Linked DNA regions of Homo sapiens. The protein of the gene in region 2 purifies or fractionates together with the protein of the main gene of each other region. This does not show direct contact. Each region holds a gene or a part of one and is shown on either strand. Other genes may lie near its edges. The genes, in order: THADA, HACL2, GBA2 and INTS12.

What was found.
Region 1: the proteins of HACL2 (region 2) and THADA purify together in Homo sapiens (co-immunoprecipitation; 3 studies listed by BioGRID and IntAct, with this or other methods). This does not show direct contact.
Region 3: the proteins of HACL2 (region 2) and GBA2 purify together in Homo sapiens (co-immunoprecipitation; 4 studies listed by BioGRID and IntAct, with this or other methods). This does not show direct contact.
Region 4: the proteins of HACL2 (region 2) and INTS12 purify together in Homo sapiens (co-immunoprecipitation; 3 studies listed by BioGRID and IntAct, with this or other methods). This does not show direct contact.

What each region holds. Positions count from the first base shown.
Region 1 is NC_000002.12:43,592,547-43,600,475, forward strand, and holds the start of THADA (tRNA (32-2'-O)-methyltransferase regulator THADA), read right to left. Parts: upstream 3,493-7,929; 5' UTR 3,385-3,492; exon of another isoform or gene 3,101-3,384; intron 345-3,100; exon of another isoform or gene 298-344; intron 1-297. UniProt on the Homo sapiens protein: Together with methyltransferase FTSJ1, methylates the 2'-O-ribose of nucleotides at position 32 of the anticodon loop of substrate tRNAs.
Region 2 is NC_000019.10:15,115,162-15,123,085, forward strand, and holds part of HACL2 (2-hydroxyacyl-CoA lyase 2), read right to left. Parts: intron 7,870-7,924; coding exon 7,731-7,869; intron 7,644-7,730; coding exon 7,532-7,643; intron 4,921-7,531; coding exon 4,821-4,920; intron 4,355-4,820; coding exon 4,257-4,354; intron 4,142-4,256; coding exon 4,005-4,141; intron 2,855-4,004; coding exon 2,720-2,854; intron 1,362-2,719; coding exon 1,247-1,361; intron 1,161-1,246; coding exon 991-1,160; intron 911-990; coding exon 840-910; intron 761-839; coding exon 689-760; intron 511-688; coding exon 405-510; intron 270-404; coding exon 91-269; 3' UTR 1-90. UniProt on the Homo sapiens protein: Endoplasmic reticulum 2-OH acyl-CoA lyase involved in the cleavage (C1 removal) reaction in the fatty acid alpha-oxydation in a thiamine pyrophosphate (TPP)-dependent manner. Involved in the phytosphingosine degradation pathway.
Region 3 is NC_000009.12:35,745,305-35,753,317, forward strand, and holds the start of GBA2 (non-lysosomal glucosylceramidase), read right to left. Parts: upstream 3,925-8,013; 5' UTR 3,401-3,924; coding exon 3,042-3,400; intron 1-3,041. Other genes in the region: RGP1 (RAB6A-GEF complex partner protein 2), read left to right, coding at 4,452-4,567, 4,939-5,075, 5,354-5,437, 5,536-5,685, 5,962-6,108, 6,323-6,450, 6,652-6,841, 7,347-7,570; MSMP (prostate-associated microseminoprotein precursor), read right to left, coding at 7,796-7,976. UniProt on the Homo sapiens protein: Non-lysosomal glucosylceramidase that catalyzes the hydrolysis of glucosylceramides/GlcCers (such as beta-D-glucosyl-(1<->1')-N-acylsphing-4-enine) to free glucose and ceramides (such as N-acylsphing-4-enine).
Region 4 is NC_000004.12:105,684,031-105,691,954, forward strand, and holds part of INTS12 (integrator complex subunit 12), read right to left. Parts: intron 5,251-7,924; exon of another isoform or gene 5,101-5,250; intron 2,809-5,100; coding exon 2,662-2,808; intron 1-2,661. UniProt on the Homo sapiens protein: Component of the integrator complex, a multiprotein complex that terminates RNA polymerase II (Pol II) transcription in the promoter-proximal region of genes.

The DNA.
Region 1 (7,929 bases), on a different chromosome or scaffold from region 2:
CCACTAGATGCCAGTGGCACCCTCCTCCCTCCCAAGTTCTGACAACCAAAATATGTCTCCAAACACTGTGAAGTGTCCCCTGGGGAGCAAAACTGCTCCAGAATGAGAATCACTGTCTAAGAATTTCTGATTTGAAGAAGAAAAATGTTTTAAGCTGAAGCTTATTACTGACTGAAGTTATTTTACCTACTATGACTCAGTCTTTGTATTTTAAAATACAGCAAACTTTCCTTTTAGTGAACATACACACAAAAAAACTGGGATAGTTTTTCCAAAGATAAAATACTTCAAACTAACCTCAGTGACTCATTAGACTAAGAGGAGGTACTACCGTGTCCTGATTTCTGCAAAAATGAAAAAAAATATTTTTTTAATGCTATTCTCTTGAGTTTGCTTTTATCGATACTTAACAAATCAACGGGTTCATAACAGGCTAAACAACCCAACTCAGAGACTACACAACTACACACTAATAGTACCATGCCATCTGGAAAGAAGTTGCTAGGGAAATGTCATAGGGCTCTTCTCTTGATGCAGTTAGCATCTTTAGCAGTATTTATGATGCAAATATTAGAGACTATAATGTAGTACATGTATAAAATAAATCTGGAAGGACATGTTGAATGATGGAATCAGGAATAAAAACAGGTCAATAAACTGGAATAACGAGCAATATGAAATTTACCAAGATGAAACAGAAATAAATACAAAGGGCTGCATTTAGTTTAGGGGAAAAAAACACAGAAAGAGAGGCTGGAGAGGCAAAACGTGGTTTGAAACAGCTCAACAGCCCAAGATGACTGCCAAAAACCACAGAAGTCAGCCATATCAGAGTGCATGATTTTATTCAAACAGGCCAGGTGACATGTAGAGCATTAGGTACAGCGCTGGCGGCCATACTCTAAGGAGCCATAACAAACAATGGAACTATTTCTGAAGGACCTAGAGAGCACCTCCTTCAGAGAACAGCTCAGTTAACCAAAGGTGTTTGGCCTGGAGAAAAAGTCAACAGAACAAGAGCCTTAAAACAGCTGCTAGACTGTTTTGGAGAAAAAGGGAATAGATTTATTTGTCTACTACAGACTTTTTTTTTTTTTTTTTTTTTGAGACGGAGTCTTGCTCCTTCGCCCATGCTGGAGTGCAGTGGCGCGATCTGCGCTCACTGCAAGCTCAGCCTCCTGGGTTCAGGCCATTCTCCTGCCTCAGCCTCCCGAGTAGCTGGGACTACAGGCGCCCGCCACCACGCCCGGCTAATTTTTTCTATTTTTAGTAGAGACGGGGTTTCATCATGTTAGCCAGGATGGTCTCGATCTCCTGACCTCGTGATCCACCCACCTCGGCCCCCCAAAGTGCTGGGATTACAGGCGTGAGCCACCGCGCCCAGCCTTAGACTTCTTGTCTTGCTATTAGATTAGTAAAAGTCAGTACAAGCTACAGGGAAACAGATTCCAGATCAATACAAAGGAAAAGCTCTATGGTCCCACTAAGGACTGGGCTACCTTTTAAACAAAGAAATTTTCCAACACCAGGAATATTCAAAGAGAAGATGACTGAATATTTTCTCTTGGACTCCTGAAACAGCTCCCTAACTGGTCTCCTGACTTCTACACTTACCTCCAAAGAGCCCATTCTGTTTACAATCATCAAAGCAATCTCTTTAAAAAAAACTCTCATCAAATTGAATTACTTACTCTCTTCCTTAAAACTTTCCAAGGGTTTCTAAATACACTTAGAATAAAATTCAAACTTGAGGCCAGGAGTGGGGGCTCGTGCCTGTAATCCCAGCACTTTGGGAGGCCGAGGCGGGTGGATCTCCTGAAGTCAGGAGTTCAAGACCAGCCTGGCCAACATGGTGAAACCCCGTCTGCACTAACTAAAAATACAAAAATTAGCCGGGTGTGGTGGCAGGCGCCTATAACCCCAGCTACTCCGGAGGCTGAGGCAGGAGAATGGCTTGAACCCAGGAGGCAGAGGTTGCAGTGAGCCGAGATCGTGCCACTGCACTCCAGCCTGGGAGACAAGAGCGAAACTCCATCTCAAATAAATAAATAAATAAATAAATAAATAAATACTTGAGATTTTGCCCTTCAAGGCCCTAAATAATCTGACCCTGCCTTCCTCCACTCTTCATCTCAAACCAATCTCCTCTTCACCATCTCAAGAGCTTTGTACTTCCTGATGCTCTTATTCCCACCTAAGAGGCTTTACACTTCTCAGTATCTCTGCCCCTTAATGTTCATTCCACATCTTTGCAAGACTGACTCCTTCTCACCATTCATGTTTCTGCTGCAACATTACCTTCTAAAAGCCTTCCATGACCACTCTATCTAAAATCTCACCAATACAACACACGTAGACACCATTTCCGTTAATTTTCTTCATAGCACTTACTAGTACCAGAAATTACCCTAACTTGTAAATTTGTATATTGTCTGTCTCACCTAGTAGCAAACTGAATGAAGGCAGCAACTTTAATCTATTTTGTTCATGTTTCAAGTCTCAATTTCCAAACCAGTGCCTGGCACATAGTAGGTGTTTAACAAACACTTCACGAATAAACAAATTAATTAACAAACATTTGTCAGAGATGTTCTAGAAGGGATATATGTCTTTAAGGGCAGGAAGGTGGACTATCTGGTACCTAAAATGCATTCTACATCTAAGTGACATTCTACATCTTAAGAACCTATGGTCTGTTTGGGAAGTAAGAAATCCATACAGTAATGGCAGGTGAGCAACCACTTAACCAAAAATGGACGCAGCTAGGAAAGTGTCGACAACAGAATAATTTGTAAAGGGATAGTCAGATCTAGAGGAATAGAGGCACGCTTCCTAAGAAAGTGACCATCGTACAAAGCCAGAAGAGACTGGGAAACCTAACTAGGGAGACTATTCTCTGGTGAAAGGTAAGCAAGTTTGCAGGAGGATTTGCTCTTGCAATTCTGAGGGCTACACAAAAGCAGACTCGGTAATTATGCCTGCTCAAATGATGCCTAAACGTGTGTCCTGAAGAACCAGGGTCCCCAAGGGGGTAAATCCCGTGTCTACCGCAAGGCCAGAAGGTGCCCAGTAAATTACACTCCTCCTAGGTCCCACTTACTGCTTCCCTTTAGAACGCTGCTTCACTCTACACCTTCCTGGCTGACTCCCACAAACATTCTCTGGGCGATTTCTGAACCACGTGGAGTCGAGGAATGACAGTGGGAGAAAGTGGTTAAAGTGCTGTCTCCATGGAGACCTTAGCGACCGGAAATCAGTTTCACAGCCGCCGAATCCTGGCGATACCAAAGGATGGGAATTGGTGTGGCTCGCCAGGCAGCCCTAGCAAAACTGGCCGAGCCGAGCTACCGCGGGTCTGGCAGGCAGGACACCTGGGAGCCAAACCTCGTGCACGTCGGCGTCTGAGAAGAGTCGCAGGCGCCTGGTCCAGTCCCGGAAGCAGGTCTCCTTCTACGGCGTCTCCGAGGCTCGCAGCGCGGTCCACGGTCGACTACCGGGTCAGGGCAAAGGGAGGGAGAGAGGGGTAACCTGGAGGAGTCATCGCGAGAATTGACCAAACGCAGCTCCTCCAATCAGGAGTTCGAGGAGGTCGTGACGTCACCGGGGTGGCCGGTAGCAATCCGGTTTAGTTAACCAGCCACTGTACCGTCAGCGCCGCGCGTTCCTCATGGCGTTAGGGCTGACGGGCCTTGTTGCTGAGGGGCCTTCATTCAACGGTCTCTTGTTGAATGAAAAGACCTCATTCTCTTCACATGCTTGGACGCCTGGGAAGCGCTTTTCTCCCAATCCAGACCTTCCACCTTTCTCCCACTCTGTTGGCCCAGTGCAGAGTCTAGGAGAAAACTACGTCTGGGACTCGGGAACGAGTCCAGGGAGTTTAGAGCCTGCGAGATGGGGCAGGGGTTTGGGCGGCGACTGAACGGAAGCCACGAGAAGGATTCGGACTAAAATGAGTAGTGCTGAACCAACGTGTGCCAAAGCGCATATATTCATTCAATAGATAATGAACTCTACTGTCAGAGCGTCGCCAAGCGCTAGCCTTGAAAGCTATCCCCTACTGAGGATACATGTATTACGCAGCACATACAAATTGTCAGATGGTTCAGTCCTTGAAAAATAAATACAATAACGGGGTGTCACTGGGAGCTGCGACAGTGGGCAAGATCAGGAAAGACCTGATGCTATTATCAGGAGTATTAATTTGGAAAATAGAGACATTTCAGTTCTCTAAACGTTAATGACTTAAGTTTTTAATAATTATTTTCTGAATTTTTTATATCAGCTTGCCTTGGTTTTCTTTATAGCTTTACCACATAATGTATGTATCACTATCTTGTTTCGTTCAATTTTGAAGCTTTTGGAATTGCGTATGTATTCTCCAGCAATTTGCTTCTTTCAGCATTGCTTTTCATATTCACCTACAGGTGGCTGTAGTGCTCTTCGCCCAGGCTGGAGTGCAGTGGCGCGATCTCGGCTCACTGCAAACTCTGCCTCCCGGGTTCAAGTGATTCTCCTGCCTCAGCCTCCTAAGTAACCGGGATTACAGGCGCGCGCCACCACGCTCAGCTAATTTTTGTATTTTTTAGTGGAGACGGGGTTTCACCATGTTGCTCATGCTGGTCTTGAACTCCTGACCTCGTGATTCGCCCGCCTCGGTCTCCAAAAGTGCTGGGATTACAGGCGTGAGCCATGGCGCCCGGACCGTAATTTTCCATTGTTTAATATACTTCATTATGTATCCATCCTGCTGCCTCTTAACATGTGCATTATTTCCAGTTTTTGTTCTAAACATTGCTGCTGTGAACTATGTTGTGCATGTCAGCTGGTGAGTGTGTGCAGACGGTTCTCCACCATAATTTTTTCTGGTATTTTTGACCCTGACATAGTAAGAAATACATTGCAGACTTTGAAACTGTGGACGTAGAAGTACTCACACATAACTGAAGTAAAAATTTCTTGAAATGCTACTTTACAGGAGCTGTGAGATTTTATTTCCTTTTTTTCTAAATTATGGTAAAATACACAGCAAAATTTACCATTTTAACCATTTTTAAGTTTTATGTTTTTTAAAATATGTATATTGTTTCAGACCTACTAATTATATAACTCAGTGGGTCCGAACCCCTTTTTTGTTGGCAGACACTGCAACTCTTCACCCTGCACAGCGAGAGGTGGGCTAGGGAGCAAACATAATAAACATATGTTGAAAGGTGAAGCTACTGTTAAAACTTCAGACAAATTAAACTTAACAGGGTTTAATTGAGCAAGGGGAAAAATGATTCTCAAATCGGGCAGTCTCCAGAATCATAGCAGATTCAGAGAGACTCCAGGGATGCCTCGTGGTCAGAGCACATTTACAGACAAAGAAAGGAAAGTGATGTACAAAAAGCAAGTGAGGTACGGAAGCAGCTGGATGGGTTACAGCTTGGCATTTGCCTTACCTGAACACAGTTTGAACAGTAAGCATTGTATGAATAGTTGAAGTATGGCTGCTGGGATTGGCTGAAACTCAGCTATTGTTACAGAAGCACACTCCTAAATTAGGCTTTCAGTCTTGTCTACCTACTAAGTTAGGTTATGGTTCATCCACAAGGACTCAAATATGGAAGTGCAGAGGCTTTCTCAGGCGGTATTTAGTTCAATTTAACACCGCCATGGAAAAAATAGGGGAATGGAAAGTGAGAGTATAGGGGAGGTACATTGCAACTTTAAATAGGGTAATCAGGGTAGGCCTCACTGAGTAAAGATTTCCAAGAGACATAGACACTTGGTGAAGGGGAAACCTTCCATACAGAGGGAACAGCCAGTACAAAGTTTCCAGGGCAGGGCTTGCCTGCTGGGAGAATAGCAAGGAGGCAAGAGTGGCCGGAGCCAAGCAAGGTAAATACTAAGGAGTGGGACAAGGGGCTTTGGATTATATAAGGCTTTCACATTATTTCATGGACTCTTTCATGAAATGAGGAGTGATTTTGAGCAAAAGAATAATAACATCTAATGTACATTTCAAAATAATCACTGGAGCTACTTTGTTAAGAAGAGACTGTAGGTCGGACGCGGTGGCTCACGCCTGTAATCCCAACGCTTTGGGAGGCTGAGGCGGGTGGATCACCTGAGCTCAGAAGTTCAAGACCACCCTGGGGAACATGGTGAAACCTCGTCTCTACAAAAATGCAAAAAAAAAATTAGCTGGGCATGATGTTGTGTGCCTGTAGTCGCAGCTACTCGGGAGGCTGAGGCACGAGAATTGCTTGAGCCCCAGAGGCAGAGGTTGCAGTGAGCTAGCATTGCGCCACTGCACTCCAGCTTGAGCTGCAGAGTGAGACTCCGTCACAAAACAGAAAAAAAAATAAAAGACTGTAGAGCCTGCAGGAAGCCCAGTGAGGCTGTTGTGGTAAACTAGGCAGGCAGGATGCTGGTGGCACTGACCAGGGTGGTAGCAGTGGAGAGCGGGAAGTGGACAGGTTTTGGATATAATTTGAAAGCAGAGCTAACAGGATTTTTTTCTGAAGGATAGAATATGGGTATGAAGAAATGAAGAGTCAAAGATGAGTCCAAAGTTTCTGGCCTGAGCACCTAGAAGGATGAAGTTGCCAAAGTTTACTTGGAGCAGATTTGAATGGGTTTAAAAGAGACTGGGAAGAGAGGAATTGGCAAGATCAAGCAGAGGCAACTCCTTCTAGTCCTTCTAGTACGCAAGGGGCAGATAAATGGAATGGTAACACCTAGAGGAAGTATACTGCCAAAAGCAATCTACAAATCCAATGCAATCCCCATCGAAATACCACCATTATTCCTCACAGAATTAGAAAAAACAATGCTAAAATTCATATGGAACAAAAAAAGAGCCCGCATAGCCAAAGCAAGACTAAGCAGAAATAACAAATCTGGAGGCATCACACTACCTGATTTCAAACTATGCTATAAGGCCATAGTCACCGAAACAGCATAGTACTGGTATAAAAATAGGCACATAGACCAATGGAACAGAATAGAGAACCCAGAAATAAACCCAAATACTTATGGCCAACTGAGCTTCGACAAAGCAAACAAAAACCTAAAGTTGGGAAAGGACACCCTTTTCAACAAAAGATGCTGAGATAATTGGCTAGTCACACATAGGAGAATGAAACTGAATCCTCATCTCTCACCTTATACAAAAATCAACTCAAGATGGGTTAAGGATTTAAATCTAAGACCTGACACTCTAAAAACTCTAGAAGATAACATTGGAAAAACCCTGACGTTGGCTTAGGCAAGGATTTCATGACCAAGAACTCAAAAGCAAATACAATAAAAACAGAGATAAATAGTTGGGACTTAGTTAAAGTAAAGAGCTTTTGCACGGCAAAGAACAGTCAGCAGAGTAAACAGGTAACCCACAGAGTGGGAGAAAATCTTCACAATCTATAAATCTGACAAAGGACTAATATCCGGAATCTACAATGAACTCAAACAAATCAGTAAGAAAAAAACAAACAATTCCATCAAAAAGGGCTAAGGATATGAATGGGCAATTCTCAAAAGAAGGGCCAGGCACAGTGGCTCACACCTGTAATCTCAGCACTTTGGGAGGCCAAGGCGGGCAGATCACCTGAGGTCAGGAGTTTGAGACCAGCCTGACCAATATGGAGAAACCCTGTCTCTACTAAAAAATACAAAATTAGCCAGGCATGGTGGTGCATGCCTGTAATCCCAGCTACTTGGGAGGCTGAAGCAGGAGAATCACTTGAACCCGGGAGGTGGAGGTTGCGGTGAGCCGAGATCTCACCATTACACTCCAGCCTGGGCAACAAGAGCGAAACTCCATCTAAAAAAAGAAGAAGAAGAAGAAGAAGAAGATACACAAATGGCCAACAAACATATGAAAAATGCTCAACATCACTAATGATCAGGAAAATGCAAATCAAAATCACGATGCAATACCACCTT
Region 2 (7,924 bases):
TAGGCCCAGGGCAAGCAATGATGAGACTCCAAACCAGCTGGACACAGTCCAGGGGCAGGAAGGCAGCCAAGCGTCCTGACCCACAAGGCCCTATACAGCAATGGAGCCATCGCGGAAGTCCGTCCTCCCAATGAGGATGTTGACCACAACCGGGTGGCCGTCTCGGCACTGCTGCTGGGCATCGTGCAGCACCTTGACCACCTGATCCTCGTTCTCCCGTGAGAGCAGCAAGCCCCGGGCCCCCAGACCCATGGCTGCCTTGTGATAATCTAAAAGAAGAGATTAAGTCGGATAGTGGCAAGGACTCAGCCCACCGCACATGCAGCCAGCCCAGGAGAGGAACACAAGCCCAGCTGGGACTGAAACAGCCTCCTGTCCTCCCAACCTCGCTGAGGCCCCCTCACCAGTGTAGGCCAGGCCACAGGCCACGTTGCTGCCCAGAGAGGGCACCTGCTCCCGAGAAATCTGTGTCCAGCCAGCATCATTCCCTACCAAGGCCATCACTGGGATCTACAGGAAGATGATGAAGGCAGGCCGCAGCCTTCAGCCCCATGGCTTGGCCAGCCAGAGGACAGAGACAGGGATAGGGCCTCTGCCAGAGAGGAGGCTCCCTCCCCACCTCAGCCCACCCCTGGTGACATCTCCCAGAACCCCAGGCCCTAAGCTTCCCTCAGGCCAGCCCAGTCACCTTGTGTCTGACGAATGTATCAAATTCGATGAGGCTGTAGCCAAAAGCTCCGTCCCCAAACAGGCACCAGACCTAGTCGGGAGGGGACCCAGGATGGTTAGGGTGGATCAGGACCTAGAGAGCAGCAAGTCTCCCAACTCCAGTGCCTCACCTCAGCATCTGGCCGGCACAGCTTGGCCCCAAGTGCAAATCCTGCACCAACTCCCAGAGTCCCAAAGGCCCCTAAGAGGACCAAGAGCAGGTGGGTGTGAAGGCGTCCTGATGGATGGTGCCCACTGCCCCAGGCGGGGGCCCTTCCTTACCAGGATCGAGCCAGCGCAGGGGGCCGCGGGGCTGTACCAGATGGGCAGCAGTGCCCACGAAGTCCCCGCCATCCACCACCAGAATTGAGTTGTCAGGTAGCGTTTCCTCCACCAGCTGCAGCACCTGCACTGGGTTCAGGTGCTGGGCCACAGGCATCGCTGCCTTCTCCCTGCGACAGGACAGCGAAGGTCACCAGGGTTGGCAGCAGGGTCTGCCGGGAACCCCCTTCCCACATCCACTCCACCCAGGCCCCACCGAAAGGTCTGCTCCTTCTGCCGGTCGGCTTCCCGCAGCTCCTCCACCCAGTCTGGGGCCCAGGTCTGGCCCTGAAGGCCCTCCACTAACTTCAGCACGAAGGAACCCACATCTCCTGGGGAAGGAAGAGGACACAGCTGTGGGGAGCTGGCTTCCTCCTGTTCTTCCAGCATCAGAGGCCTCAAAACAGCAGGAAGCCAGCAGCAGCATCCGAGCAGGCAGACGGGAAGCAGGCCAGGGGTGCTCCTAGAAAAAAAACAGGTGAAACACCCCAGAACCTGCCAGAACCAGGGGAGGGCAGCCCAGGTGAAAAGGGAAGACAAGGCCCAAGAAACAAGGGTTAAGGAGCACAAGGCAGGTGACAAACCCAAGCTGGCCTCGTCCCCTCCCTCCACCTCCTTCTGCCTGGGAAACACTCAATGAAAAGAGCTACATCCACCAAGCACATCTCTCAAATCCAGGCACGTGGAAGCGCACAGCGAACGTTACTGAAGTGAACTAACAAACAGCCCCGTGATGTATCTTTCACCACCCCATTTTTCAAATGATCAAATGGAGGCTCTGAGAAGGTGAGGCTCTGCCGCTGTTCATCTCCAGTTCAGGCCTCCTCGCTTCTGTCCTGGCCATTTTGAGCAGCCCCCCTGGCCTCCACCCAGCCCCCTTCCGGCCTGCCGTCCATGGCTGCTGAGTGGACCTTCCCAACACAGATGCAACGGTGCTACTTCTCTGCTTAATACAAGAGTGTCCTGTCGCCTAGGCTGCAGGGGAGTCAACATCCTCAGAATGATGAACCAAGTTCAAGTCCAAGGGGACTAAAATAAGGGGAGGGGAGAGATACGGCAGGAAGACAGGCTAAGGGGCCAACGAGTGTGCTCTCTGTCCTGAGGGCAGTGGGCAGTGTGGGAGGGAACGTGATCACATGCACGTTTTCAAGCCTCCCTCTGTGTCCACCCCACCATTTGTTCCTACAGAAGCATCTATCAGGCCGGGCGCAGTAGCTCTGGTCTGTAATCCCAGCACTTTTGAGAGGCCGAGGCAGGAGGATCACTTGAGGCCAGGAGTTCCACGCCAACCTGGGCAACACAGTGAGATGCTGATTCCACAAAAAAAAATTAACAAATTAGCCTGGCATGGTGGTGCATACTTGTAGTCCCAGCTACTCAGGAGGCTGAGGTGGGAGGATTGCTTTTGAGCCTGGGAGTTTGAGGGTGCAGTGAGCTGTGATTGCACTACTGCATTCCAGCCTGGGTGACAGAGCGAGACCTCGTCTCTAAAAAATAAAAATAAAAAAAATTTAAAGAAAGAAGCATTCATCAGTTTGAGAGCCAACTATTTGTCTCTGGTTGACTGGCTACCCCTAGGGCAAGGTCTGGGCCTCAATCACTGTACCAGGCTCAAGCCAGCTGCAGCAGAAACCAGGAGGAGAGGGACTGGGAGGAGCACATATGTGTACGGGGGGATTAAGGGGCTCACCCTGCACAGCCTCCTGGGGCTTCCAGAAGATGTCTGAGTTGAGCAACATCTCTTCCCGATTACGATTGACGATGATGATCTTGCTGCTGTGGCTGAGGACACGGCCATAGGATAGGCGGAAGTCACACACAGTTCCTGGTGTGGGGGACAGGAATGCAGTAGGCAGAGGCCCCATGTCGTCTACCTTACTTGATCCACTGTGGTGGACTGGATGCAAATGAGTCCCTGTTCCTCACCGAGTCTCCCTGCACCTGTGCCACCTACAGTGACCTTGCAGCTCCCCACACCCCCTGAATCGGGACTGGCCTCATGACATGCTTTGGCCAACAGGATAGGGCAGAGGCAGGTTATATTTTCCCAGATGGCCATAATATCTCCCACCCTACATCCATTTGTACAAGGTCACCTTGACATGCCTCCCATGGAGAGAGGTGCAGCCTAGGTCCCCTTTCCTTGAAAGTGACACACCATGACACCCAACAAGGAAGATATGCAGTTTCTTCCTTGTTCACTTTTAGAGGCCTGGGTGGGGCCAAGGAATGTGCTCTCTGTCTAAGAAGTCTGACTACCCTGAGGCCATCATGCTGGGAGGAAACCGGAGCCACACATAGAGACCTGTGTAGTTGCCCTAGTCCACAGCCCCTCCAACAGCTGGCGTCAATTGCAAGACCTCTGAGTGAAGACACCTCCAGATGATTCAGGACCCCCACCCCCCATTCCTGCAGACTCTACTTCAAGAAGCCACACAGCCTCCACTCACTCTCTTGAATAACCGCACTCTCCTAGCCCCATAGTTTTCTCATCCTTCACCAAGTCGGCCAGCCCAGGCTAGCCTACTGGAGGATGAGAAACAAGGGGGCCATGGAGACAGGGGTGAAGAACTCTATGACCCCAGCTGAGGCCATCCCAGACGAGCTGCAGGGCCAGCCAATCCCCATACAGGTGAGCAAGCCCAGCCTGGATCAGCACAGCTGCCTTCCTGCCTAACCCAAGTGCAGACTCATGAATGAGCCCAGCCAAAACCACAGCTACCACCTACCTTATAGGTGGATCTTGAGAAATCAGAAATGCATTTTTAGCCATTGAGTTTGGGGATGGTTGTTACAGGGCAGTAGCTATCTGATACACCTATTATGCGTCTGGTTGGGTTCAAAGCGCTTTATGTGAAAATGTGTATCAAGTACAATAGGTGCCCACTAGACCTTCCTCCTCCTTCGTGTGAAGCTGGGTAACAGGGTGAGGGGGTTCCTGGGGGAAGGAGGGAAAGGAAGAGGCTCAGGCCCACCTGCTAGGACAATGACATCCGCCTTCTTCAGGGCCGCACTGCGGTTCTCCCGGATGTGGAGGGGGTGGTTGCGGCCTAACAGCCCCCGTGCCATCCCTCCAAGGAAGCAGGGAACACCCAAGGTCTCCACGGCAGCCCTGGGAGTCCAGGCAGAGCAGAGGTCAGTGTGGCCGGGGCCTCCCGCCTCCCCAAGAGCACCCGAGGACTGGGGACTGGGAACGTGAAAACAAGGGCAGGGCTGGCGCTTCTCACCGAAGCTTGTCGGCAGACGTTGGGGTGAGCAGGGCCTGACTCCCCAGCACCATCAGAGGCCTCTTGGCCCGGCTCAGGATCTCCACACAGCGCTGAACCTGGAGCGAGAGGTGGGGATCAAAGGGCTGTCTTTTTATTTATTTATTTTTTTGAGACACAGTTTCACTCTGTTGCCCAGGATAGAGTGTAATGGCATGATCTCAGCTCACTGCAGCCTCCACCTCCCAGGTTCAAACGATTCTCCCGCCTCAGCCTCCAGAGTAGCTGGGATTACAGGCGCGTGCCACCATGCCTGGCTAACTTTTGTATTTTCAGTAGAGACAGGGTTTCACCATGTTGGCCAGGCTAGTCTTGAACTCCTGGCCTCAAGTGATCCGCCTGCCTCGGCCTCCCTAAGTGTTGGGATTGCTGCTGTGAGCCACCGCGTCCAGCCAAAGGGCCGCCCTTGAGTCGCCATGAGCACCCAAGATTAAGGCCCCAGTACTGACTCAGGGAGAGGGTCAGGGGGCCCTCTCCCCTCAGGGAGAGGGTAGGGTCCTCAGACACAAAAGAGAGGCAATTCACCTGCTGCGGGGAAGCCTGGGGGATGTCCAGGGGCAGCGGTCCCTCGGGCTGAGGCTCCCAGGCTCCTGCAAAGAGGTTGGCCAGGTAATTCTCTAAATACCTGCAAAAGGGAGGGGGAAGAAACCAAGTTGCCAGAATTAACTAACTACAAGGATTCCAGGATCTGAGCAAGGAAAGGGGCCGGGAGAAAAGCCAGGAGCAAAGTGGCATGGGGACAGGGTGGATGAGTGACACCTCAGGGACAGACGAACCCTAGTGGCCAGGTCTTCAACTGCCTGTTTGCCCTCGGTAGCCTCTGGGGTCCACCCCAACTCCACGTAGCCCCCCAGAAGCAAGGAACGCAGGCTCAGCATGCCAGGATTAAGCCTGTGGGTCCAACAGATGTGAGCTCAAGTCCTGGCTCTGTCACTTCCTAGCTGTGCAACTTAGGGCAAGTGACTTCACCCTTCTGAGCTTCCACCTCTGTCAATGTAAATATGAACCTCCCTCCCCAGGTTCAAGGATCTGTCCACTTAGGACATGAGGCGCTTTGCATGGGAGTTCTGAACACTGTCCTCTCCTGCTTCAAACAGGGTCTTCTCGGTCTCCTTGCTCACTGGGCCCCAGGGCCCCAACTTTCCTGAAGGACCTGTGCAGGGCCCTGGAGACACAAAGATAGATCCTGCCCAGCCCTCCCCTCAGGGGGCGCTCTATCCAGCGAAAGACAGACACATGGGCATTGGCAGGAAACAGTCGGAGCTCAGAGTCAGAAGCCTCTGCTTTCACCGTTAAGGACAGGCCAAGACAGCACAGAAGCAGCCCAGGATGGAACCGTGGGAAGCCCCGCAAGTAAAGAAAAGGCAAGGGAGGCTGAGGCAGGAGGATTGCTCGAGGCCAGGAGTTCAAGGCTGTGGTGAGCTATGATCATACCACTGCACTCCAGCCTGGGTGATAGAGTGAGGCCCTGTCTCAAAACAAAACAAAACAAAAAAGGCAAGATAAGAGATAGCCTTGTGAGAGGCAGCCCAAGAGAGAGGGGCAAGGAGAACAAGGGGAGGGACTGACTGGGAAGCCAGGGGGCAAAGTGCATTAAGAATGAGGCTATATGACCAAAATGGTGAAACCTCATCTCTACTAAAAATACAAAAATTAGCTGGGTATGGTGGACTGCACCTGTATTCCCAGCTACTCCGGGGGCTGAGGCAGGAGAATCACTTGAACCCGGGAGGTGGAGGTTGCAGTGAGCCAAGATCGCACTACTGCGCTCCAACCTGGGGGACAAAGCGAGACTCCGTCTCAAAAAAAATAAAGAGGCCATAGAACAAAATCACTACTGCCTGAGCTGACCCTCAGGCGCTTCACACACATCCGGAGTACAGGAGCCTGACTACCTTGTCCACTGATGATGCCCCGTGCCTGTCCTGGAACCTGGCACATGGCTGCCGCTCGCTAAATGTATGGAAAGGAAGGGCCAAGGACAGGCAAAGGGAAGGGACTGAGGGGAAGGGAGAGAAGGAGGAAGAAGAGGAAGAGGAGGAGGAGAAGAAAGGAAAGGAAGAAGAAGAAGAGAAGAGGCCAGGCGCAGTGGCTCATGTCTGTAATGTTTGAGAGGCCGAGGAGGGTGGATCACTTGAGGTTAAGAGTTCAAGACCAGCCTGGCCAACATGATGAAACCTCGTCTCTACTAAAAATACAAGTATTAGCCAGGTGTGGTGGCGGGCGCCTGTAGTCCCAGCTACTCAGAAGGCTGAGGCAGGAAAATCACTTGAACCCAGGGGGAGGCGGAGGTTGCAGTGAGCCGAGATCACGCCACTGCACTCAAGCCTAGGCAACAGAACGAAGAATCTGTTTCAAAAAAAAAAAAAAAGAAAGAAAAGGACAAAGATGTGAGGGAAGGAAAGGAGGAGGAAGGAGAGGGCTCGAGTCTGGGCTCTGCCACTTTTTTTTTTTTTTTTGAGACGGAGTCTTGCTCTGTCACCCAGGCTGGAGTGCAGTAGCACGATCTTGGCTCACTGCAAGCTCCACCTCCTGGGTTCACGCCATTCTCCTGCCGCAGCCTCCCAAGTAGCTGGGACTACAGGCGCCCGCCACCACGCCCGGCTAATTTTTTTTTTTTTTGTATTTTTAGTAGAGATGGGGTTTCACCATGTTAGCCAGGATGGTCTCGATCTCCTGACCTCGTGATCTGCCCACCTCGGCCTCCCAATGTGCTGGGATTACAAGTGAGAGCCACCGCACCCGGCCTGGGCTCTGCCACTTCTTAGCTGTGTGACTTTGGGCAAGTGACTTCACCTTTCTGAGCTTCCTCCTCTGTAAATGTAAGAATGAACCTCCCTTCCGAGGTTCAAGGATCATCCTTTAGGAGGAGGAAAACGGAGAGGACGATGGGAAAGGTGGTGGGGGAAAGGGAGGAGAAGAGGAAGGAAGAGGGAGGAGGAAGAGGAGGAAGAAGAGATGATGGAGGAGGAGAAGAAAGGGAAAAGGAGGAGGAGGAGGGCTGTCCTGAGCCTCTCCCCTTTGCTGCCTCCACGAGGGCCGCCTTGCTTTCCCTACCCACCCAGTTCATTCCTGCCTCAGGACCTTTGCACATGCTGTTCCTTCTACCTGGAATGCTCTCCCCCCAGCTGTCTCCTCCCAGTCCACATGTGAATCAAAGGAGGATGGGTGTGGGCTGGAAGCTGCAGGAGAGAACGGGGGATAAAGGAGGGAATGGCAGGGGTGGGGCTATTCACCAGGAGACCACTCGGCCCACGAGGCCCTTGGGTGGCTTGGCTGGCACCATCTCCTTCTGGACCATGAAGTAGGGGTACAGCACGTCAACGGGCAGCTCCACAAACACCGGACCTGCAGGGACAGGGAGGACGCTGAGTCCATAACATGTCCCCAGCCCCTCGGCCCCAGCACTGCTCAGCATCACCATCCTCCACCTACCTGGGGTGCCCGACTGGGCGGCAGCCATCGCGGCCCTCAGGGTGGGCACAATGTCCCGCACCCTCCGCACAGACACACAAAACTTACAGAGTGGCCGGAAAAGGGACAGCTGATCAACAGCCTGGAGCGCACCCCGGTTCTGGCAAAGACAGAGGTGTGGCAGGGTTATCGCATGAGCCCTTCAAGCCCCCCTA
Region 3 (8,013 bases), on a different chromosome or scaffold from region 2:
AGTAGAGATGGGGTTTCACCATGTTAGCCAGGCTGGTCTTGAACTCCTGACCTCAGGTGATCCGCCCGCCTCGGCCTCCCAAAGTGCTGGGATTAGAGGCGTGAGCTACCGCTTCTGGCCTTTCTTCTTTTTAAAATGATCATTTTTCTTTCTAATTATGAAAGGTGAAAGGGGGAAAAAAATAATCTCACCCATAGACAATCAGTGTTTATATTTATTTCTGGACATTTCCTCTCAAGCCTTTTTTTTTTTTTTTTTTAAATTCAACATTTAAACTGTGAAGCTTTCTGATTTTGCTCTTGGTAAAGCCTTCAAAAAATCCCAACATTTTCCTGGGCTTGGTACAGCCCTATATCCAAGAGGCAAATGATTGAGGCTGTTTTCAATAGGCAAACGATTCTGTTTTCAAGGCTCTGACATCTGTCCCAGCCTATCTTCTAATCTTATTTCCTACAAATTCTCATTCCAGATGGGTCCTCACTAAGTAGCCCCTGCCCTGCCAGACTCTTTCCCATTTCCACTCTCCTGCCTACTGCCACATTATGCCTACTGTTCAGTCACACCACTTCTAACCAAATAATTGGGTAAGTAACCCCTAAGTCCCAGTTTCCTCATCTACAAAATGGGGATACCACCTGCTCTAGCTATCTAATGAAATGGTTGAAAGATCAAATGACATAATAGATAAGAAAGCCATAAAGTACAGGTATGATTATTACTCATATATACAAACTGTTATCTCAATTCCTAATCAGACATTGCCTTGTTATTTCAATGTTCCTCATGTGAGGCTGACATACTTTTAAGTTCCTTGGGGAAAGGGACAATGACAAAGACTAGCTGAATATTACCCTCAGGTCCAAGCACAGGGTAGGACATATGGTCTGCAGTCAATGCATATTTGCCAATTTTACAGATGAATGAACATACAAATGATGGGGCACAAGAGAGATAACAGACTGGAGCAGAGGAGAAGAAATGTGATTAATGAATAGGGACAGCGGCCAGGCACGGTGGCTCACACCTGTAATCCCAGCACTTTGAGAGGCCGAGGTGGGCGGATCACGTGAGGTCAGGAGTTCAAGACCAGCCTGGCCAATGTGGTGAAACCCCGTCTCTACTAAAAATACAAAAACATTAGCCAGCTGTGGTGGCAGGCACCTGCAATCCCAGCTACTCAGGAGGCTGAGGCAGGAGAATCGCTTGAACCCAGGAGACGGAGGTTGCACTGAGCTGAGATTGCACCATTGTACTCCAGCCTGGGTGACAAGAGCAAGACTGTCTCAAAAAAAAAATAATAATAAAATAAAAAGGGACAGCACATTCTAGGGGTGGAAAGAAGAGGGAAGACAAAGGATGGGATGACAGGAAGGCAGAGAATCCTCTCTGCCAGCTTAGAGAAAACCGGACTTTGAAACTAGAGACCAGAAAGGACTGGTAGAGGGAGGGTGTGGCCGAGGATTAGGGCAACCAGGGAGAGTAACTGCAATCTATGAGGACAGACAGAACAAAGGACTATCTGGCATGGAACAAGCACTCAATAAATATTTATTGAATGAGTGGACTCTGGCTGGAAGGGAGAACAATTGAAATTGAGTTCTTACGAAGGTAAGACCCAGAGAATTCTGTCTTGCTAGAGCTCCTGGTCAGAGTGCCCACAGTTCAGCTCCATCTTAGGAGCTCTCTTACTCCCTTAATATGGTAGCTGGCCATTCCTGACCTATTTGGCCTTCTCCACAATTTCAACCTCAACTCAAGAGTTATCACTTAGAATTCTTGTCTCACCTGTGCTTTCTCCTCATAGGAACTCATCCTATTCCAAAAGCCTTGTATCAGTACCCCCCACTCTATCCTGGAATGGGGAGCCAGGGTCCAGGGGGTTGAGCACAGCTTCAGGCCTCTATGACTCAGTTCATATTTAAGGGCTAAGAGGCTAGGATGCCCATCTTTTCTTGATCTCATTGTTCCTACCACATGCAACTCAGTGTACTTCTCTATGTACACTAGATCCTATTTTGATGCAAAAACTTTTGGGGTCAAACTTGGACTGAATTGATTCCAGAAGCAGCCTGGAGGGATGATTCTTCTCTGCTACAGGCTACCCACAGGCACCAACAAAGCCAGATGTGCAGGCAGCATCAGGCCCTTCCCACTCCCCAGGGCTAGGGTTAGATAACTGATCTCCCCATCACAGCCCCACAGCACTGACTGGGGAAATGAAGGGTCTCCTACTCTAGAAACTGTAAGGGCAGGGTTTCCCAAGCTTTATGCCTCCCTCCACAGTTCTGTGTGTATTGTGTAGACTGAGTCAGGATGACCTCAGGGTGATGCTTTCTGTCCTCACATCCACCTGTTCCTGTTAATGGGTCTGGCTCCTCATCACTAGTCTTTGAACTCAGTGGGGATCTAGATGGGTTCTACATCTATGGCAGTGCCTCTCTGATAAATGACTTAATATCAAGAGCTCTCTATCCCAGAACAGAATGACAGCACCTTCTCATCACTTCAGAGGTGAGGGCAGGGAGGCTCTTCTTACCTACTCCCTGGAGCTAAAGCTTGAAGAAAGAAGCAGTAGTGTTGGGACTCTAACAGTGTGTCTAATGAGGTACAGAGAATGCCCCAGCTGCTTGTGGGAAATAAGGGGTTGAGACCCCCCCACCCCCAAATAAAACAACATTGTGTTAGTATCACAGCAGCCAGATTATCCTTTCCTACCTTGCCACAAAGTATAGCTAATCCCAAAGGGAAGTCATTGGAAACCAGTATGTGAGAAGAGCCTGAATGGGAAAGGCTGATTGCATGACCAAATGTTCCTACCCTTTCCTTCTGAAAAGACAAAACACTGGGAGGGAAGGGTGTTGCAAAGAGATGTGACCTGGTCTCACGGTCCAAAACCACAGGCCTAAAATATGCCAGGGATAGGGACCGCTTCACTCAGACAAGAAGCCCAACTGCTTTCTTGCCCTTTCCCACCTCTGCTAGAAGTTTTGAGCTGGAACAAAGTGAAGCCAAAGGCATTCTAGGCAATGGGGTCTACTCACCTCAAGCCCATGCCTATATGCTTTATCATGTTGCTTAGGGAGACGTTGTTAGCTTGAAAGGGTTTCCTCTTCTCTGTAAACTCATGAGCCAGACAGATGCGCCAGCCAAAGGGAGGCACCTGGTAGCCCATAGCTTTACCCTCATAGGAAACCATCAGCTGCCCAGAGTCCTCCGGATTGCAGCAGTCCGTCTCTTTTGGGGGTCGGCTGTCTTCGGGACTCTTACAGTCTGTAACCTGCACATCCTTGGTGCCGCCAGTCTCTTCAGGGCAATAAACTTGTGGATCCTCTTTGGCACAGCTTATCTGCTCCGAGGCTGGGACGCCGGTTCCCATGTTCCCTGGATCCTGGGTCCCCATGACCTCGATGGCGCCAAGTCCCGAGCCCTCGGATACTAAGTATCTCGCCAGCCTATTCCAGATGCGGGCGCCGGTCGTTGTTAGGTATCGTCCCGGAGGGCCGGGCGTTGGGGAAAGCTTAAATGAGCTGGTGTTTCAGTGGAGCCGGGGAGCTCTTGCTTCAGTGGGGGCGGCGACAGCAAAGAAGCCGCCTTGGGCTCTCCTTCGGTTGTCTCTGTAGGTCCTGGACGGGAAGGGTCGGGCCTCGTCGTCATTGAGCCGACGATTAGCTCGCCCGGCCAAAGGGCGACTGGGCCCGCAGAGAGGGGAGGAGCCGCGGGGCCAGCCCACCAGGCACCGCCCCGGGACGGGCCCGCAAGGCACCGCCCCCGGGACCTCGGCCCGGCCCCTGGGCCACGGCACCGGGTCCCCCAGGATTGGGCGCCAGGTCCCGCCGGCCGGCTCCGGGGCAGCGCCCGCGCCCAGGTGCCAGCCCGTGGGAAGGTGACCCTGGGCGCCGGGATGACCCGAGCCCTTTCCGGTCTGGCCTGCCGGGCGCTTCCGGCCGGAAGGGACTCCGCGGAGGGTGGGGGACCGAAGGGAAGTCCCGCCTCTACCGCCCAGCGGACGCCGCCGCCGCCGCCGCCGCCGCGTACCTAGCCAGGTCCCTGAGGGGCGGGCAGATGAGGCCTAGGGGTGCCGATCCCTAGTGTCGACTATGCGAGGTGACTAGCGGCGGTGATCTTGGGCTGGGACGTGGAACTTTGAGGAAAGGGGGAGCGGAGGCCAGTTTGGGAACTCCGCGGGGGTGCCCAGGGAGAAGAACCCGTCGCACAGGGGCTGGGGTCTAGGGCCCAGAGCGATGTCCTCCCCCTGGGCAGTACTGAGTCTTCAGTCGCCTCCCTCCCACCCGCCTACCCCTCCTATATCCAGGAGCTCCCTCGGGCACCACGGTGCTGACCACCCCTGTCCTCAGCCCTCAGCCCTAGGTGCTCACCGCAACGCCCCTCCCTGTCAAGGTGCTGACCTCCGCCCCGCCTTGTTTCCTTCTAGATCTGATTCCGGAGCTGCCATGATTGAAGTGGTAGCAGAGCTCAGCCGGGGTCCTGTATTTTTGGCTGGGGAGGCGCTGGAGTGTGTAGTGACCGTCACCAACCCCCTTCCGCCCACGGCCACTTCTGCATCCAGGTGGGGATGCTGGCACTGAAGGTGGTGGCCCTTCTGGGAAGAAGCCAGATTATCTCTGGGGCTGAGGCAGAGCTCAGGTTGTCCTGTAGCGACACCACCTCCTCTTGCTCACTGTGCTGTCATTGTAGGAGAGGGCTCTTTAACAGAAGATGTGGATGACATAGCTGTACGCTTTCCTTCCCCTCCCCCGTTCCCCTTTTTACGCACAGTCTGCTACTCTTTATTTAATGGTTTCTCTTTGGGATTGTGGATTTCCTGATCACTAGGACAGCCATCTAACCTTGTTGGTTAAGATGGTGTGATAGGGAGCTTGGGAAAGCATTTGTGAGGTCAGGAACTACCTCTGATGCCTCCTTTTCCTTTTCCCACAGTGAGGCCCTGGCCTGGGCCAGTGCCCAAATCCACTGCCAGTTCCATGCCAGTGAGAGTCGAGTAGCACTGCCTCCTCCTGACTCTAGTCAGCCAGATGTCCAGCCCGACAGCCAGACTGTCTTTCTGCCACACCGAGGTTAGAGAGGGGCATTTGCCTGGGAGAGGGGGGGTGCGGAGGGTGTGTGTGGAGGCATTGTCACCCATGGGTGAAGTTGTTAATTGTTCTTGTTCTTATAGTCCCTGTCATGCTGGGGATGTTGGGGAGCATGACTATTGCTTTAGGGGTAGAAGACTATTCCCATTTCACAGCAGGGACGGAGGGCCTGGCAGCCTTTCACTATCTCCACTTGCCGTGCTAGTCTTGTTCAGTACTGGACAATGGGTCATTAAATTAGTCATTTTTACCTTTTTCAGGTGAGAGGGGCCAGTGTATCCTTTCTACTCCACCGAAAATTCTATTCTGTGACCTGAGGCTTGATCCTGGAGAGTCCAAATCATGTGAGTGATTGTCCCCATCCCTGAATTGCCTTCTAAGTCTCCTGGAGGGAGGACTCCTCTGGTGCCTCTGGCTGTCCTGACAACTACTTCCCAACCAGACTCCTACAGTGAAGTGCTGCCCATAGAGGGACCACCCTCCTTTCGGGGTCAGTCAGTCAAGTACGTCTACAAACTGACCATTGGCTGCCAGCGTGTCAACTCCCCTATCACTTTACTCAGAGTCCCTCTGAGGGTTCTTGTGCTGACTGGTAAGCAAGGGCTCCTGGAGGGAAGGGCTGGGGAAGGGCGATGCCAAAGCAGAAATTGTCTTAGAGGGCTTGCAAGAGGGACTGCAGGGAAACTTCCTGGTCTCAGTGACAGTGCTAGGGAGTTGGGAAGGGAGGGAGGGTTCTGGAGATAGAGATGTAAACCTCAGCCCTGGCACCCCTTACCTTTAGCCATCTCATGTTAGAATCTAAAACCCTAACCTCTACTCTCATCTCCGTTCCCTCTCAGCATTACCTCTCCACTCATTCTTTCTCTAGGCCTTCAGGATGTCCGGTTTCCCCAGGATGAGGCTGTAGCCCCATCCAGTCCATTCTTGGAGGAGGATGAAGGTGGGAAGAAAGATTCATGGCTAGCTGAGCTGGCTGGGGAACGCCTAATGGCTGCCACATCCTGCCGCAGCCTCCGTGAGAATTCTTTCAGAATTGTCCTACCCCATCCTTCCCCTCATTGTTTTCCCATCTCAGAGACAGTCTCCTAACCACCACACACTTCTGTGGATCCACTGATACCTGACACCTCCAATTTTAAAGAAAAGCCCCATCTTTTGGCCTGTGGTGCCCAGTCCTAGACGTTATCCAGTATGTAGACTCCAGGCTTATAGTGTCCTATTCTCCCCAGATCTATACAATATCAGTGATGGCCGAGGGAAAGTTGGGACGTTTGGCATCTTCAAATCTGTGTACAGACTTGGCGAGGACGTGGTGGGGACCTTAAACTTAGGGGAAGGAACCGTAGCTTGTTTGCAGGTAAGAAGGGAGCAGAGCTTCTTACCTGCTGGGGTGCTGGGGTTGAAGGGCTAGGGTGGAAGGCCTGTATAAAGAGGGGTGGCATGTAGAAGGGGATAGTGGGGTCATCCAGGGTCCCTTTGTAAAACAGCTTGAGGTTGGGCTGTCCTCTCACCTACAGACAGCACTTCCTGTTAGCACACACCTGTCTCTTGCTCCCAGTTTTCAGTCAGCTTACAGACCGAGGAGCGTGTACAGCCTGAGTACCAGCGGCGACGTGGGGCAGGGGGTGTCCCCTCTGTGTCACATGTGACTCACGCCCGGCACCAGGAATCCTGCCTACATACAACTAGAACCAGCTTCTCCCTCCCAATCCCTCTCAGCTCCACCCCAGGCTTCTGTACAGCCATTGGTGAGACCCTCACTGTTACTGGAGAAGGGAGAGGGGGACAGTAAAATGCTGTGCTAAGGGAGGGTGTAATGGATCCTGATTCCTTATACACACTCCCAGACATACCCACGTCTAGCCTCTGACCCGGAACAGTTTCTCAGACCTTCAACCTCTTCCTGTTTCTTAGATGCACTGACCCCTAAACTCCTAACAGCTTGATAGAACTCCTTCCCCACACCTACCTACTAGGACCCTGTGATACACTGATTTTTGATTACTTCATGCTACCTAGACTTGACTGCCTCACTCTTAGGTTATTAGGTACTTAATACTGCTATCTTCAGCTCACATCTGTGGTAGTACCCATTGCTTCAGAAAAACCCTTAATCACAGCTCCCTGCCCTGTGACTTTTCCCTGTCTTCCTGAACACAGATTGTTTTCTTCTCATTCACTAACTATATCCTGTCATTGGCTTTTACTCCTGCTAGCTTCTGATGCTTCTACCTTAATCTTTTTCTTCCATAGTGTCCTTGAAGTGGAGATTGCATTTTGAATTTGTAACGTCCCGAGAACCAGGATTGGTACTCCTACCCCCTGTGGAACAGCCCGAACCTACCACCTGGACAGGACCTGAGCAAGTACCTGTAGACACCTTCAGCTGGGACCTGCCCATCAAGGTGCTGCCTACTAGCCCCACCCTGGCCTCATATGCTGCCCCAGGCCCCAGCACCAGCACCATAACCATCTGAAACTGGCCCACCCTGGTGCTAGTTCCTTCCGGATACTGAGAACTCAGCACCTGGACTCTAATGGGACCCACTTTTTCCACCTGGGGTCCAATGTCGTGGACAGTGAGAGTCGGGCTTTCAGCTATAGCATTAATTTATTTGTTCAGAATACATTGGCAGCTGCTAGTGGTTTCCCTGGAAGTGGCAGCAGCAGTGAGCAGTCAGCAGATGGATGATCAGTTGAGTTTAGCTGGAGTGGGGAGCAGGAGCCCCAGGAACAGGGGTGTTGGCTGAGCCCCATTCTGGGTCAGGCCCTCCCCCTTTGCAGGGCAGCCGAGGGTCAGATTTTTGCACCAAGGAGAACTGGCAGGTTCCTGCCTCCTGACGTACCTCACACCCAGCCGGGAAGTCGATGGGATGCTGGGACCTGGGGAACCAAGGATAGGGGAAGGAGTCAGCACAGT
Region 4 (7,924 bases), on a different chromosome or scaffold from region 2:
CCTTTAATAAGGATTTTATCAATTGCCTCATTAGGCTGCACAGTGACATTTTGGGTAGGACTGATCTCATTCTCTGATATATTTCATAAGGGTATAACACTTCAACTTCTCTGATTAACTTTCCTGGCTAATCAGAAGCTCACAATGGTACCAATGCCACTATATAAATACATATTGCTCTTGTTCACACAAGAATATATTTTTTCACTTTCATATTAGGCACAAATGTACGTATTCAAATTAATTTTGAATTGAACTTCTTATTGACACCTTTTCTACCTTTATACTCTTAAGAAGATTCACAAAAGCATTACATTCACATATAGGTAAAAGATAAAATTTTACAAAATAACATCCTACTTAAAAAATGGTAGTTATTATACCTAAAATATATCCAGTTATAATTTAGAACTTTACTCTGAAATAGTTGATAAAACATTTTTAGCTCTTGAAATCAAGGTAGCCTTCAATATTGTCTGCATGCATACATTTTTAATCAATGTGAAAAGTAACAAAAATAGAGTTCTGAGATATTCGATTTATAAGAGAAGGAATCCAGATATTTGTCCACATACTCTGAAAATTGATAGGAAGTTTTCTTACAGTAACATATTAACTATCTTATGAAGTTATCCAGAGAAGAAAAACTACATAAACCATTTATTCCTAGAGGAATATATACCAGCAATGAGAGAAAAAGTTAGTCAAGAAGTAAACCTTTAATTTTCAGTTATGAAAGACCTAATTTTTTTTCCTTTTCTTGCTATTAAACATAAAACTGTCTGCCATATGGTTAAATGATCTTTCAAAAAACTTCACAAAAGAAAACCCACCTTTAGTAATTAAAAGACCAACACTTAGGAAGTACAAGCAAGAAAGCATGTTCTATGTGTCTGGCATTTCATTTTAATGGCTTGCTGTTGCTTAGTATTGCTTTTCAACAGGATGACAGATGGTTTATAATACTATCAGGACACATAGAAGTAATATAACACAAACAATGGAGACCAAGTGATTTCTTACTATTTCAGTGTAGAAAACAAATTTCTCAAGTTTTTAACTATAAATATTTTCTTGCCTATTTGCTAGATGGGCAAGTTAGAAAAGACATTTGCTTTTTATATGTGAATGGGAACAATTTTTTTATAGTATAAATTTATTCACTTTTATAAAAAGTGAATTTTTTATTAAAGAAACACAAAACCTCTTAATCAAAACAAATATGACAGCAGTCTTTAATTTGTTTGCCATAAAATGATTTCATGTTGAATTTTCTAAAAATAAACTTTAGTAGTAACAGATTAATCTAAAAATCTACTAAAAAGTGATTATATGCAGAATATAGCAACTCTAATTACTTTCAATAAACTGGTTATTCTTACTTCTATTCCAATTCACCAAGTTCCTATATGACAAATCAATAATGGATATGCCTTGGATAGCAAATCTTCCCTGGCAAATTAAAATGAAAAATAATCTCCAAATATAATTATCAATAAGTTTTTAAAAGTATTTCGTATTCATATTCTTTTTCATCACATCAAGGGTATGAAGCTTACTACTTACAGTCACTTAGATAAGGCAATAACTTTAGAGTTTTCTCAGGTCAATCTTTGAGAATTTGAGGCTATTTTTTTTTTAATATTTTTTCTTCCATATTTAGTGCTATGCTTAATATTGGAATGTGTACCTCAGTAAAAGTATTCTTTTTGTTATGAAATTAGATTAGAAAATTATTTTTTTCCATGATATAAAAAGGCCAAGATATTAAGAAATAATGTAGTATGATTTCAAGGATGCAAACTTAGGAATGAGAAAGGTGATACCCTCACTAGACAATGTGGTCCCTTGGTATAAGAGGTAGATAACATTGAAAGTTTATTATAAAGAAACAAAACAAGACAAAGCAAGAAAACTCCTTCAACAGCCAATAAGAAGGGAGAAAAAAAAATTACAAGGCCAATCTGCTCAAGTAGTGTGGGGAGCAAAATTGTTGCTACTGAGGGCAGAGGTATTTTGAATTTAAACCAGATTTCTTTTTCTTTTTTTGAGTTGCAGTTTCGCTCTTGTCACCCAGGCTGGAGTGCAATGGTGCTATCTCAGCTCACTGCAAACTTCGCCTCTGGGGTTCAAGCGATTCTCCTGCCTCAGCCTCCCAAGTAGCTGATCACAGGCACCGCCACTATGCCTGGGAATTACAGGTGCCCATCACCACCCCTGGCTAATTTTTGTATTTTTAGTAGAGATGGGGTTTCATCATGTTGGCCAGGCTGGTCTCAAACTCCTGACCTCAGGTAATCCACCCGCCTTGGCCTCCCAAAGTGCTGGGACTATAGGTGTGAGTCATGGCACCTCGCCTGAATTTAAACCAGATTTCTGATTGAAGACAAATATCTAACCAGATGAGAATGGTAAAGAATGTCATTTTGGAATGATCATAGACTGTTCGTATTTGTGATAAAAAGAAAAACAACAGAGTTAGAGATTAATTAATGATATAAATGTTCCCTTTCTACCTAATATAATAGTAGTAAAGTCTTAATTTCTAAAATATAGCCATTTAGTATATAAAGTTTCTCATTAAATTTTTTATCAAGCAACTATTTTTTAGTCAACTAAACTTTAAGATATAATCTTAGATAAAAATAGAATCTACTATACCTTGACTTCTGTTCTCTTAAACGCTAGAAAAGTTGTCTCTTGTTTCAGTTTAGTTTCTGGTTTCTTAACCAATGGATCTTTGACAGCTGGAGTTACAGAAACAACTGCAGGGGCTGGTTTCTGCGGTGGTTTCTGAGTTTTTTGAGCCTGCAAAAATCAGTGGATTAAATCAGATACAAAATCTTAACTGAATATACAGAAAGATAATAATCCCTCACAGGACTCATCACTGAAATGAAATACAGTTGAACATTTTAAAAAATAGTGTGATGATAATGAATATATATGCTCTTTGACAAATTATTATCATATTAATGGTCTTACAGATTGTATTAGTTTCTAAACAGTAAAGATAATATTAAGCTTTAGAAATAATACAGAAGAGGGTTAGTTAAATACCATTTTAACAAGATAAAATTGTTTTTTAAAGAGCAAAATCACAAACTATATGTAACCGTTAGCTTTACTCATGATGAAGTACATTTATTTCTCATTGGGGTTTGTCAAATACACAAGAGTTTTCTTCTTGGGGTCTAGGCATAAGTCGACTCCTCAGTTGCTGAGGGCAAATTAAAACACAGCTCAGATCATTTATATGGTTTTAAATATAGAACAGGGAGAAAAAAACTATTGATAAATGATTAAACTTTTTGAGGTTTTTCCACATTGCAAAACTAGGCACACTAAATCTTTAGAGAAAGTTAATAAATACAAATTTCTATGTTATGAAAGAATTTTCACCCACTATTATTTTATAAGCATCTTCAGTTTTATTTTGACCAATAACTGATTTTTTCCTTTATTTTATAACTAGGTACTTGACTAAATTTTCCTATAAACTCTAATCATTTTTGAGTTTATTTTTTAGTGTTTTCTAGGTAGATAATTATAACTGTTTATAAATGGTTATGTGCCATGTTTAAGAGTAATTTTCAGAGTCAAACACAGTTAGGATTAAAACCCAGCAACTGGCTGGGTGCAGTGGCTCACGCCTGTAATCCCAGCACTTTGGGAGGCTGAGGCGGGTGGTTCACTTGAGGTCAGGAGTTTGCGAACAGCCAGAACAGCCTGGCCCACATGGTGAAACCCCGTCTCTACTAAAAATACAGAAATTAGCTGGGCATGGTGGCGGGTGCCTGTAATTCCAGCTACTCAGGAGGTTGAGGCAGGAGAATTGCTTGAACCCATTAGGTGGAGGTTGCAGTGAGCCGAGATCGCACCACTGCCCTCCAGCCTGGGCAACAAGAGCAAAACTCCATCTCAAAAAAACAACAACAGAAAAAAAAACAGCAACTATTTTTCTAGATACATTACCTCAGGCAAAATATGTGAATCTCTAAAAGCCTCATTCTCTTCATCTGTAAAATGGTAATAGCATTTGTTTCAAAGGTGGGTTATGAGGATGAATTATGATTATGTAAGAGTTTAGCATAGTGTCTGGAAAATGTTGAGTGCTAACAAAAAGTTACTGTTTATTCATCATTATTATTTACAAAGGATAATCAAACTGAATCCAGAAAAATCCATGCATACTGAACGGGGAAAGATGCTTCCCGCCAGCCATTCCATAGTCTTTGATAATCTTCATAAGCCCATACAGTACTATACCAGGGAATTTATTAACAATTTGTCACCATTTCTGGAAGCCAGAATTTGGCCTATTTTGCTCTTGTTTGGGCCTTCTTGTGTAATCTTGGGCTACTGTTTGCCATACTATATAGTTTGGGTCCTTAAATCTCAATTCGTATCACTTTTTATACTACATACCTTCCACATCAAAGTACACCTACCTTCAACATCACTTATAAAGCAACAATTAGATCAAGAATATTAAGAATGTTCGAAGTAATTCACTGTTGATTACTTGATTACTGGTACTAGCAGGAAAGCAGAGCCATCTTATCCTTCATTGCAAAACCATGTTACGAGAATGCATCCCTCACAGTAAAACAGAAACATATGGCTCCAAAACCATGGCTTTCAATCTTAACACTGCCTTCCACCCACATCTAGCACTCCTGAGGTTAGACTCTGAGGACCCACCTAACTTGTATGTTTTAACAGATAAAGACTAATTATGATGAAGCCCCAGGAAGTACTTCTGCCTGTGAGATCATGTTTCAATCTTCTGCCTTCCCTGTTTTATCCAGCCATCTTAGAAACTGAGTAAGAAATACCCACAACCCTTTGTCCTTTACTGGTAATACTAGTTTAGGGAACTAGGATATAATTACTGATTCAGTTTTGTTCAACAAAGGTACTAAAATTTTCATTGGATGACTGCTTCAAACATTGCAAAATGTATAAAATTCTCCACTAAGGCACTAACTGCCAGAATGGCAGTACTAAAAACCCCACCTATTTCTAAATGCTGCAAAATAGGAGTGTGTTACTACCTTAGATTGAGAACCACTGCAATAAGTGATATGAGTCTCTCACCTGAAGCTGGGGAAAAACTCCACTACTGCGTAGAGAGAAAACTATAGAACTGAAGAATAACCTTGGACCCTGCCATACACGATCACAACATTCTTAACTAGGTCTTCCTACAATGATGTGTACCGCAGAACTTGCCCCAGTTTGAGGAATCTGTTTGAGGAGAAAGGGGATATCAGGTCCTATTTATAATATCTTTGAGATACCTTGGAACAATAACCAATGCACATATGAGAATCTCACTCAAAGCAATTATAGTTAGAATGACTGTATTTAGAATCCCCACTGTTCCAAAATTATCTCATTAAACCTTACATTTCCTGGATTCTGATCTTTAGGCTCACTTCAGATCATGTCTTTTGGTATTTCCCCACATTTGCTCTTGGTGTATTCTAGTCATGTTATAATATTAGCCATGACTCCCCATTTAGTACTTTGACTTCTGGACACACAGACCAGATTCACTGTTGATTTCTGGTACTAATCTGCATTTAGCCTGGCATGGTGGCTCATGCCTATAATCCCAGCACTTTGGGAGGCCGAGGCAGGAGGATCACTTGAGGTCAGGAGTTCGAGACCAGCCCTGGCAATGTAGCAAGACTCCATCTCTACAAAAAATAAAAAAAAAATTAGCTAGGCCTGGTGGCACATGCCTGTAGTCCCAGCTACTTGGGAGGCTGAGGTGGGAGGATTGCTTGAGCCTGGGAGGTCAAGGCTGCAGTGAGCCATGGTCATGCTACTGCACTCCAGCCTAGAAAACAGAGTGAGACCCTGTCTCAGAAAAAGAAAAAAATTACATTTGCTTCATTTTATTTAACTTAAGAACAACAGAATGTAGAATGTGTCCAGTCTTGAGCTCTGCTTAAGTGCTATGCCAATGAATACATGCTCTTACTGATAAATTAGATATTATTTGCAAAGCAGATAAAAGAATAAACAGTATCCCAGATGAAGAGAAGAAGCTGAGAAGCAGAAAATATGGGAACATGAAAGTTCTCCACATATTCAGGGAATGACACACTTAGTCTGTGTCAGAGTGGCCAGAGTGTATGAATGTGTATGCTGAAGCAGTGAGAGAGAGGGCTGTAAGGTAGAGTCGGGTCAAAAAGAGAAGGTCCATATATGCATCCTAATGAGTATAATCTCATTATATAAGTAATTGAGAGCCACTGGGCATATATAAGTAGGTAAATATTTTAGAAGAATTCTAATGATAGTAAGCAAAGTGGATTGATAGGAGGCAAGGAGATTTATTAAGTGGCTATTGCAATAGACAAGTAATGGATTTGTGGAACAGGGTAATAAAAGAGAAATGAATAGATTTCAGAGACATATAAGAGGTAGAATTAGCAAATCTGGTAAACAATGGGATATGGAATTAAAAGAGGCATCAAAGATGTTTTCTAATTCAGGCAATTGCAGAAAAAAAAAACTGGATAATAGAACAACTTTCACTTTTAAATATATTGACCTTAAAGTATCTATAGACTATCTAGTTAGCTATAGAAGCTCACCCAGGAAGAGGGTTAGAACCATAAACATAGATTTGACATAAATCAGAAAAAATGGAGGAGAAAAAACTTGGGGGAAGAACAGTGCTTACTTTAGATATTAAAGGAGCTAAAGTGATAATAATAATGAAACAGTTGAGTACATACTAAAGAAAGATAGATTATTGTCACAATTTGTTTCTTTTGACAATTTCCAATTCTTAGTGGTTTCTTATCAATGCTCTGGAATGCATTGCTCATCTGTAATAATTTCACTTGAGATCCTGGAGGGCTAGTTTAAATAATAAATTAAATAAAAACCAAACTGAGCAGAACAGATTGTAACTTGTCATAGAAATTTCCTGTTACAAGTAAGAAATATACACACTATTGATATACACACTTTTCATTTACTACTTTTTATTTCATAGGAATAAATAAAAACACTTCCTATTTCTGATTTAACTGATTAAAAAGTAAAATGGGTATCCCGAGTTTTTACTTTTAACTAAGTACTTCTGACCTTTAAAAGATATATTGGTTAGACAAATTTATATAGAAATTCATTTGATTAACAGACATGAGAACTCTGCAATTGAGAATCACTAATTTAAGGCAGGGGAAGAGAGATGGAAGTGGGAGGGAGAGGTGGAGAATAAGACATTATGGCAATTTCTTGTTTTCTTTAAAAGAAAAATTATGAAATTCATTTATCATTTATCTATTTTATAAGTGAATAAAAGTTAGAAAACTATCCAATATAACAAATGAAAAGATATTTCACTATGATATTAAAGGCAGGTATGTTAGTCAACAGTAAAAAGAGAAAGTACATAGGAAGAATGAGGTAATGGTCACTTGAGGACAATGAGAAGGAAAGACTAAGCAACAGAGAAATGCAGCTGGAAAGACAGATATGCACATATAAATATCGCCTCTGTACACATCTTATCCATGCGGTGGTTTAAGCTCACTCAGAAATTTTCTATATTTCCTTACCAGATCTCAACAAAGAGTGGGGCTTTGTATCTCACCACTTCTCAGTGCTGCATGGTATTTTAAAATGTTTGTCAATACATTGACAGACTAGTAAGGAATATTCATAATTTGTGTGTCACCAATCTTGTTTTATCTATATTAGAATTAGATAAAACTAAAAAGAGAAAAATGCACATAACATGGTCTGGTCTTTAGCAATAGAAATATTAATCACATGTACATACTATACATATAAATAAATAATCAGCTTATATTATTTATTTTTTCAATATCTTAAATATTCAAATCTTTGTTTTGAAAGCACATACCAACAAAAACATTGACAGACTGTTTAAAAT